2 linked regions of the Homo sapiens genome follow. The protein of the gene in region 2 purifies or fractionates together with the protein of the main gene of each other region. This does not show direct contact. Each region holds a gene or a part of one and is shown on either strand. Other genes may lie near its edges.

Evidence for each region. The genes of interacting proteins can lie anywhere in the genome.
Region 1: the proteins of CAPN8 (region 2) and FNTB purify together in Homo sapiens (affinity purification with mass spectrometry, with the first as the bait; one large-scale study listed by BioGRID). This does not show direct contact.

The regions. Positions count from the first base shown.
Region 1 is NC_000014.9:65,058,905-65,063,736, forward strand, and holds the end of FNTB (protein farnesyltransferase subunit beta), read left to right. Parts: intron 1-2,276; coding exon 2,277-2,408; 3' UTR 2,409-3,746; downstream 3,747-4,832. Other genes in the region: CHURC1-FNTB protein, read left to right, coding at 2,277-2,408. UniProt on the Homo sapiens protein: Essential subunit of the farnesyltransferase complex. Catalyzes the transfer of a farnesyl moiety from farnesyl diphosphate to a cysteine at the fourth position from the C-terminus of several proteins having the C-terminal sequence Cys-aliphatic-aliphatic-X.
Region 2 is NC_000001.11:223,619,564-223,624,639, reverse strand, and holds part of CAPN8 (calpain-8), read left to right. Parts: intron 1-1,739; coding exon 1,740-1,825; intron 1,826-4,373; coding exon 4,374-4,448; intron 4,449-5,076. UniProt on the Homo sapiens protein: Calcium-regulated non-lysosomal thiol-protease. Involved in membrane trafficking in the gastric surface mucus cells (pit cells) and may involve the membrane trafficking of mucus cells via interactions with coat protein.

The sequences.
Region 1 (4,832 bases), on a different chromosome or scaffold from region 2:
CATTCATAAGAAAGATTGATCTAAAATTTTATTGTATTGTCCTTTTCCAGTGTTTCAGGATAATATCATAGCCTCATAAAATTAAATGGGTAGCTTCCTGCACCTCTTACCTTTTTTCTTTTTCTTTTCTTTTTCAGAGACATGATCTCACTCTGTCACTCATGCTGGAGTACAGTGCTGTGATCATAGCTCACTGCAGCCTGGAACTCCTGGGCTCAAGCTATCCTCCTGCCTTAGCCTCCCAAGTAGCAGGGACTACAGGTGCACACCACCAGAACCTGCTAATTTTTAAATTTTTTGTAGAGACAGGGTTTTGCTATGTTGCCTAGTCTGGTCTTGAACTCTTGGCCTCAAGCTATCCTACCTCAGCCACCCAAAGTGCTGGGATTATAGGTGTGAGCCATTGTACCTGGCCCCCGCACTAGCCCCTTTTTTTTTTTCAGTCCTTAAAAGGTTTGTATAGATCAGAGATTATCTGTTTCTTTGTAGGTTTGATACTACTTGCCTGAGAAACCATCTAGGTCTAGTATCTTTTAAGGTATGTGGGGGTGGCAGAATAAGCAATTGTTGTTACTAATTTCTTCATGTAGGCCTTTAAAAATTCCTTAAGTCAATTTTGGCAGTTTTCCTGGTTTTTAAAAATTATTGTTTTATCTGAATTTTTGTATGTTTCAGCATGAGGTTGCTCCTAGTATTCTCTCAAAATTTTTAAAATCTCTCCTGCAGTTGTGTCCCCTTCTTCATTATCCCACAGTGGGAGAATCCTGAATATTGGCCTAGGATTATGCCGTGTCAAATCTAAAGTTTCTTTTGGGTTTCTGTGATGTACTAGAATAACATCTATTTAATTTAAATTTCATATTTAAATTTTGTTTATATATTTAAATATGATCTGACAGCCTTACTACATATTAGGGTTGTGGTCCTTTTTTCTTTTTTTTTTTTTTTTGAGACAGAGTCTCGCTGTTGCCCAGGTTAGAGTGCAGTGGCACAATCTTGGCTCACTGCAACCTCCGCCTCCCGGGTTCAAGCAATTCTCCTGCTTCAGCCTCCCAACTAGCTGGGATTACAGACACTCACCATCATGCTCGGCTAATTTTTGTATTTTTGTAGAGACGGGGTTTCACCATCTTGGCCAGGCTGGTCTTGAACTCCTGACCTCGGGTGATCCATCCACCTCGGCCTCCCAAAATGCTGGGATTACAGGCATGAGCCACCGCGTCCGGCCCCCTTTTTCTTGATTATAAATGTAAATACATGTTTATTGTTTTAATAATTGGGATACATAAAATATAAAAAAGAAAATGAAAAACAATCATATCACTATTAATATTTTGGTATGGGTACAATTTTTGCTATTTATATACATCACAGGTACAAATACACTTTTTAAAAAGTTTGAGACCAGGTGTGGTGGCTCACACCTGTAACCCCAGCACTTTGGGAGGCCGAGGCGGGTGGATCACCTGAGGTCAGGAGTTCGAGACCAGCCGGACCAACATGGTGAAACCCTGTCTCTACTAAAAATACAAAAATAATCCCAGCACTTTGGGAGGCCGAGGCGGGCGGATCACGAGGTCAGGAGATCGAGACCATCCCGGCTAAAACGGTGAAACCCCGTCTCTACTAAAAATACAAAAAATTAGCCGGGCGTAGTGGCGGGCGCCTGTAGTCCCAGCTACTTGGGAGGCTGAGGCAGGAGAATGGCGTGAACCCGGGAGGCGGAGCTTGCAGTGAGCCGAGATCCCGCCACTGCACTCCAGCCTGGGCGACAGAGCGAGAGACTCCGTCTCAAAAAAAAAAAAAAAAAATACAAAAATTACCCAGGCGTGGTGGCTCACACCTGTAATCCCAGCTACTCAGGAGGCTGAGGCAGGAGAATTGCTTGAACACAGGAGGCAGAGGTTGCAGTGAGCTAAGATCGTGTCAATGCACTCCAGCCTGGGCAACAGAGCAAGACTCTCTCAAAAAAAAAAAAAAAAAAAAAAAAACAGTTTGAGATAGTATTGTACATACTGTTTTCTCACATAATATGTTGTAAGTATTTGCCTGTATCGTTAAATATTTAAATGCGTGTTTATAATGGCTGTATATTAACCTGTGTCCCATGTACTAGATAGTTTTAGCAAATACACCATTTTTGAACCTTTGGGCTTTGTGTGTATCTCTGATTCCTTATACTAAATTCTTAGAAGTGCCTTTCATGGAGCAAAGGATGTGTTATGTTTTCAAGGACCACCGGGGTGATTAACTGGCACCTTTTCTTCTCTTTGCAGCAGCCCACTCACCCAGTGTACAACATTGGACCAGACAAGGTGATCCAGGCCACTACATACTTTCTACAGAAGCCAGTCCCAGGTTTTGAGGAGCTTAAGGATGAGACATCGGCAGAGCCTGCAACCGACTAGAGGACCTGGGTCCCGGCAGCTCTTTGCTCACCCATCTCCCCAGTCAGACAAGGTTTATACGTTTCAATACATACTGCATTCTGTGCTACACAAGCCTTAGCCTCAGTGGAGCTGTGGTTCTCTTGGTACTTTCTTGTCAAACAAAACCAATGGCTCTGGGTTTGGAGAACACAGTGGCTGGTTTTAAAAATTCTTTCCACACCTGTCAAACCAAAAATCTATCAGCCCACGTGGTGTGGTTGGTGAACAGTGCATGCCAGGAGGAAGCAGTCCCTCCTCACCAGCTCTCCAGCCAGGACGATCACACAGAGATGAATGGCATCTGAGTATTACGGCATCCAGAGCCACTGCTGACTCCCACTTGCACGCCACCATTCAGTCACCAGACTGGGTGCCCTCCGATGGGTGGAATAAGTCTGCTTCATGCCAAGGCTGGGCTTTGGGTCCCACCAAGATGAGTTCTCTGTAAGACTGTGGTGGAGTTGCACCAGGAGGTGCCTCTGCCTCTCGACTTGCACCCTGGTCATTTGTAAGGGAAAAGAGCTGGAGGTGGGGAGAGAAAGATCTCCTTCAGTTGGGAGTCCTTCCACTTCAACACTGGAGAACTGAGCCTTGCATCTCTCCAGGGTCCAAGGCCACGCTTGGTGCACAGGCAAGACTTGCTTCAGCCCCAGGTGTGGTGACTTAGACCTAGGAAACCAATTATGAGTGGAAAGTGACCCTCTAGTTCAACTGTGCCAGAGGAAACAGCCCTCCAGTGCCCACCTGCCTCACTCCTCCCTATCATGTACCGTGAAAACCCCCTCTGATGGCCTCAAGGCAGTGCCTGCAGGCCGAGGCCCTTCTGGGGGTTTCTATCTTTCTTCCACCAGACTCCAAGCCCACTCTCCTCCAAGACTGTGTTGTCTTTTCTCACCAAGAGTATTAACACTACTAAGTCTTTCACCTTAACTTATGACTCAGGATTTATTCACGTCCTGCCCACTCTAGGCTCACAGGAATAAAATCAAGTGCTAGACACACTGGCTGCTACTAAGGCACTAGCCTCTGTAGCTGGTGGTGGCAGCGTGGGGTGCCGCCCAGCGTGCTGGGTCCTGGCAGTGCCTCTGCTGTGCTGCACATTGAGCCCTTTCTCAGTCAGTGGAGTATCAAGTTGGGCCATCTGTCTACTGACCTGGCCTTCATGTAAGCAGCTGTGGGCTGCGGGCAGACAGGAGCTCAGAGATGCAGCATGAGGCGCTTAGAAAAACCTGGCCATTTGCTGCCTCTAATTCCCTTTTGCTTTGCCATATTGGGCTATGTATTACCTCCTTGAAATAATAAAAGAATAACATTTTCTATGATGTCTCTTATTTGTGATCTGTACCAAGAAAATGCCCAATGGTAGGAGCTACTAAAGGTTGCTCAGGGATCGTCAGTCTCCTGTGTGCAGGATTCCAGACTGTTCACATCGGTGGTGACAGAGGAATGACCGAGTTCCATCCTCACATGCCGTCTCCTCCAGTAGAGGAAGCCGTGGGCCTAACAGAGAGTGGGAAGAGATGTTTTCCAAGCTCCCTGGGGTAATTCGGTATGCTATGTCCCAGCCCTCCACACACTGCACTTCATGGTCTGTCTCCGACAGACAGCAAGGACTGGGCCTAGTAGCCCCAGAGCAGGCTGACTTAGCAAGGGTGGGTGGATGTCTGGCCAGAGGCAGGGGCTGTCACAGGGACAGGCTGGAACTCTGTGGCCACTTGGCTTTCCCTTCCTCTGGCGAGAGACCCTCTCCCATGGGAGGCCAAGAACATGGATGTCCTGTGGCCTGACCCTCTTGGAGGGGAGAGAAGATGGTGTCCTTAGAGGGCACCCAAATCCATGTAAATAAGCCAAATGCACATCCAGGAATGTAATTCCTGCCCCCTGTGCTATTTTTGCCCTGTTAACAAAGGTTTGCACTGCAAGGCAACATATTGAAATGCATCCTTTCCATCACTATAACAAAAGGCAAAATCCTCTCAGCACTCGGAGCCTCAAGGTATTGTGAGATTAATTGCAGTAATAATTAATGTGGTTAATAGAAGGGATTGCTTCAGTCTGAACTGGCTTTTTACCAAGAAGGAGGGATCTGAGTTGGGCCCCAAAGGGTAGGTAAAGTTAGTCTGGGTAGAGAAGAGAAAGGGTTATTTCAGGAGAGTTTACACTGGCATATCCATGAGACATCCTTTTCCAGAGGGTTTCCTGACAGCCCTCAAGGTGAGTCCTAGAGATTTGTCTATTCACTCATTTGAGATAGGATCTTGCTCAAATGCACCCAGGCTGGAGTGCAGTGGCACAATCATGGCTCACTGCAGCCTCGACCTCCTGGGCTCAGAAGATCTTCCTGCCTTAGCCTCCCAAGTAGCTAGGACCACAGGTGCACACCACCACAGCTAGCTAATTTTT
Region 2 (5,076 bases):
TGGGCTCAAGTGACCCTCCTGCTTCAGCCTCCCAAGTAGCTGGGACTACAGGCAAGTGCCATCATGCCTGGCTAATTATTAATTTTTTAAAAATTTTTGTAGAGACAGAGTCTGTCTGTGTTGCCCAGGCTGGTCTTGAACTCCTGGGTTCAAGCCATCCTCCTGCCTCGGCCTCCCAAAGTGCTGAAATTACAGGTGTGAGCCACCATACCCAGCTAGTGGTTTACCATTAAAAGAACAGACATGATAAAACCACACAACTAAGTAAAATACATCAATCCACGCTGAAGACAGTGCTATAATTGAGAAATTAATTTTGCTTTGGGCTTCCCAATGGCCAAGGCAGAAAGGGAAATGCAATGAATGTCCCACCTCTTGTTATTTATTTAACTGAAATAGGCCAGGCATAGTAGGGTGTGCCTGTAGTTCCAGCTACTCGGGAGGCTGAGGTGGGAGGATCGCTTGAGCCCGGGCAGGCGCTTGAGAGCCTGCAGTGATTGCACCACTTCACTCCTGCCTAGGTGGCAGAGAGAGGCCCTGTCTCAAAAATAAATAAATAAATAGAGTTAAATGAAACAGATGTTCTTTACATGTGTTTGTGTTTCATAAATATGCTTTTCTTTTTTCTTTTTTTTTTTTTTCAGGTGGAGTCTTGCTCTATCACCAGGCTGGAGTGCAGGGGCACGATCTCGGCTCACTGCAACCTCTGACTCCCTGGTTCAAGTGATTTTCCTGCCTCAGCCTCCCGAGTAGCTGGGATTACAGGCACGCGCCACCACGCCCAGCTAATTATTTTTTTTGTATTTTTAGTAGAGATGGGGTTTCACCATGTTGGCTAGGATGGTCTTGATCTCCTGACCTCATGATCTGCCCACCTCGGCCTCCCAAAGTGCTGGGATCACAGGCGTGAGCCACTGCGCCTGGCCCAAATATGCTCTTTAATGAAGTTAATCTCATAAATGGGAATTGAACATGTACATGCAAACATTGGGCTAGGTGAGTTGGGGGATACACAGGAAATGAAGACAATGAGGACCTAACAGCCTACACAGTTGGTGTGTGTATATGTGAATGCCAGTGTGTGTGCAGGGGCCCAAGGGGCTTATGCTTGAGTGTTCAATAAATAGGGGAAAGCAGTATATGTGGATTTAGGAGTATGGGCTTTGGAGACGGACTGCCTGAGTTCCTGGCCTGCGTTCACCACTTACTAACTAGATAATCTCGGATAATGTAACTTCTTTAAGTCTCAGATTTTTGAGCTATGAAATGAAGATAATTCTTTATCTTCTCAGGATTGTCGTGAGTGTTAAATGAGGCAATAAAGCACCTAAAATGCTTAGCACTACACCTCATCTGTAGTACCTGCTCGATAAATGTTAACTGCCGTGCTTTGGTGTTTGTTTGGAGGGCGTTTATTATCATTAGGTCTCATGTATTAAAAGCTCAGTCAATCTTAGTCAACTATAAAATCTAAATCTGAGTTAAAGCAGACATAAGCTTGTTTTTGGGCTAGACTCACTCTTCATTTATTCAAACAAATTATGAAAAATACCTCATTTATTCAAACAAATTATGAAAACACTTGGCCCAAGCCTGAAAAGATGCATTAAAGGAAAATAAAAGTGTGGTCCTTTAGGGACATTTGAAAAATTTAATGCAGATCCTGTCAGGTGCAGACATGCCTGCAAGGCAACAGGAGCATAGTAATTCAGTCGCTTTTCTGTGTATGGAATTTGCAGGTGAATTTCCAGGGCCATCCAGAGAAGCTGATCAGACTCAGGAATCCATGGGGTGAAGTGGAGTGGTCGGGAGCCTGGAGCGATGAGTAGGTTTTTTTCCCCCGCTTCTCCAGTCATCTCTCCCTCTGCGGAAGGGTGTCGTGTAAAACACACAACAATGAGATCGATGTCACAGTGAGTTCAGCAGCACGTCCTGTCTGCAGATCACACAGTGTGTTCAGAAAAGAGTATTAAATGGATCCAGGCTGGGAAAAGCAAAATAAAAACCACTGGGCTGTAGTCTTCGATTCTGGCTTTCTGCTTTGGCATTTGAAAGTTTGGCGGCTCTGTGGAATTTTGCTTTGCGCTGAAAGGTTTTTGTGTTTTTTACCTGACGCACCGTGCTGGTCCAAAGGTCAAATCGATCACTCACAGTCTGTTTCTTTCCACTCCACAAACACTGGACACTGACAAAGGCCAAACCCCTCAGCACCAAGAAGAAACAAGGATGCTGAGAAAATGAAATTTGACCCTAGGAGCCCCGGGCCCTGGCAGCAGTGATGAATGAGGCAGCGGCACTCGCTCCTACCCTAGGCACGTTTGATCACTGACTGGAGAGACTCCTCTTGGGCAGGCCTCTCTGCTGATGAGGGAAAGTCAGTCAGAGGTGGTGATGTCCCAGGACAGCTGGGCCCTGGAATCCATGTCCCCATCATGCAGGAGGGTGGAAAGCATGGGGTGGTTTCTGTCCAGTGAGCACAGCTGGCCTGGCAGAGGCAGGTTAGTGTGGGGGAGGAATTAGAATTAGCCAGTCTCAGCTGGGTACAGTGGCTCAGGCCTGTAATCCTAACACTTTGGGAGGCCTAGGCGGGTGGATCACTTGAGCTCAGGAGTTCGAGACCAGCCTGACCAACATGGTGAAACCCCGTCTCTACTAAAAGTACAAAAATTAGCTGGAAATCGCTTGAACCCAGGAGTTGGAGGTTGCAGTGAGCCGAGATTGGGCCACTGCATTCCAGCTTGGGCAACAGAGCAAGACTCCATTTAAAAAAAAAAAATAATTAGCCAGTCTCATGGACAAAGAACCACCAGAAATGAAAATGGTCACAATAATGCCCCCTCCCAATACGTCCTTAATCCTCAAGTGCTGTCGGTACTCTGTGATGCCACCAGGGCTTTCGAAGGGGACATCGCCAAGTTTAATCACAGCATCATGACTGCTCATGTCATGACCACGCAGAGGGGCAGTAACTCCCTTCAGGTTGTGTCACGAAGAAACACGTGTCTCTAGGGCCACACATGAGCCTCCTGTAGGAAGGATTTTTCATTCTACTGTGTAAGATTGAGCAAAACCCAAAACCTCAGTTCCGCCAACTTCCCTAAAAGGATGACAGGGCCACGTGAAATTGAAACCCTGAATGTGGGCCATTCTTACCAAAAGTCACTACCGAGCTGTCCAAAGGGCTTGTTTGACTTTCTCTCCTTTCCCTGAGCACCCGCTCCCTGGCAGGCGGGAGGTGGTGACTGTCAAGTCCTGGAGGCCCTACCAGCTGGAGATGCAACCTGGGATAATTATATATATCAGCTATTGGAGGAGGAGGGTGCCGAATCTCTAAGGCAACATCCCTAAGCTCAGCCCAGGGATTAGTGAGATTTTACTTAAAAAAAAAAAAAAAAAGTAAAAAAAAGAAATTGGAGCAGTAGGTCAGATCTGGAATTTTCCAACTCCTGCCCTAATCTTTGTTTATAACAAGCACATTCTGAGATTTGGTTTTAATCAAATTAATGTTTCAATGAATTGAAGAGGCTCTGGGAATTGTCGTGCTGACCCCCGGGGTCTTAAAGCCTGGCTTGGAGGAAGAGGCTGCGCTGGAGTGTGCCCCAGCTCTTATGCTGGGGAGAGAAGGTGCTTAGGTTTTGCTGAAGGTATTCAGGCAGGGATTTTTTTTTTTTTAAAGATGGATCTTGATACTGCTCTGTTACTTAGATGTCACATACATATTTCAGGAAAACCTAACTTCGTAAAGGTCAGGAAGCTGGAGATGGCATTCAAACAAAGTGCATAGATATTGCCCTTGAAAGGCCACCAGCAGGAGGTCTCACAGGGTGACGTTTCTTCTGGGAAATTGCCGTAAAACTGGGCTGGATGATCATTCTCGTGGGTGTAAGGAAGTGAACCATGTCCATGTCCCCAGAGCTGGTTAGACTCTGTCAGCATATTCACCCTAGACTGCTGGATAAGCCAGAGTGATAAGTGACTAATGGGTACTGGAGTGCCTGCCTTTCCAGTGACGAGAACTCATCCACGTTCTCTCCTGGGCCTCCCCATTCCTGCAAACAGGGGCCTGGGAGTCTTAATTAGAAATGTCAAATTTGCCCTAGAGAGTAAAAATTAGAGCATAATGTTTGAGTCATAATGTTCCTGGCACATGTCCAAGGCCATCGTGCTAGTGCCCATGGAGTCCGTGTCCTGGGTCTGTGTCCCTTCCCCAGACAGTGTGCTCGCGCCACACTGTCCATTCTGCCTTTCTGTCTGCCTGCAGTGCTTTTGGTATTTTGTTTCTGGCTCTTAGGGGGAAGCTTAGCTGCAGTAAACAGCTTGCCCTGCTTGTAGAACCTCTCAGGAGCGAGCATCTCTGCTTGTTTTCCCCTCAGTGCACCAGAGTGGAATCACATAGACCCCCGGCGGAAGGAAGAACTGGACAAGAAAGTTGAGGATGGAGAATTCTGGTGAGAGAGTTTTCTGCTGAAGCGCTGTCCCATTGGTGATGGGTCCATTTTCAGTTCTGATGTGAACTCTAGGTCTCTGGGTCTTCCAGGAAGGCGACATGGTTCCTGATCATGGTGAATTCATTCTTCTCCTTTTGTCCTGGTATAATTCCACCTCTATACCAGCACGTCTAAAGCACTGAAACCATGATATCTAGGCCCTCAACCTGGCTTAGCTATCAGCCTGTCTTTCTCAGTTCTATTATCTTTCCAATGAACTGAGAGCACTGCTTCTATCTCTTTAAGCTAAGATTTACCTACCATCAATATGGGAGAACTTCCTTTGCTAGTGAGCTAAGGAAGATAATAAGGATACTCCTTGAATATGGTACGGCTTAGCTGGACATCACTCCGAATTAAACAAAAAGAAACCTCTTGTGAGCTTAGACTTAACCCAATCTAGAGGCAGAGGCTTTGTTGAGATGACCTCCTGGGGTCTTTTGCAGTTTACAGTTCAGATCCTTTGCTTGGTTGTTAAGATATGTGTGTGGGGCTCCCTGTAAGAGCCAAGAAGCTAGCGCTAGTGAAGAATGTGGACTGTTGTCTCTGCGTGTTTGTATCAGTGTGCTGTAGGAAAGATCAAGCTAGC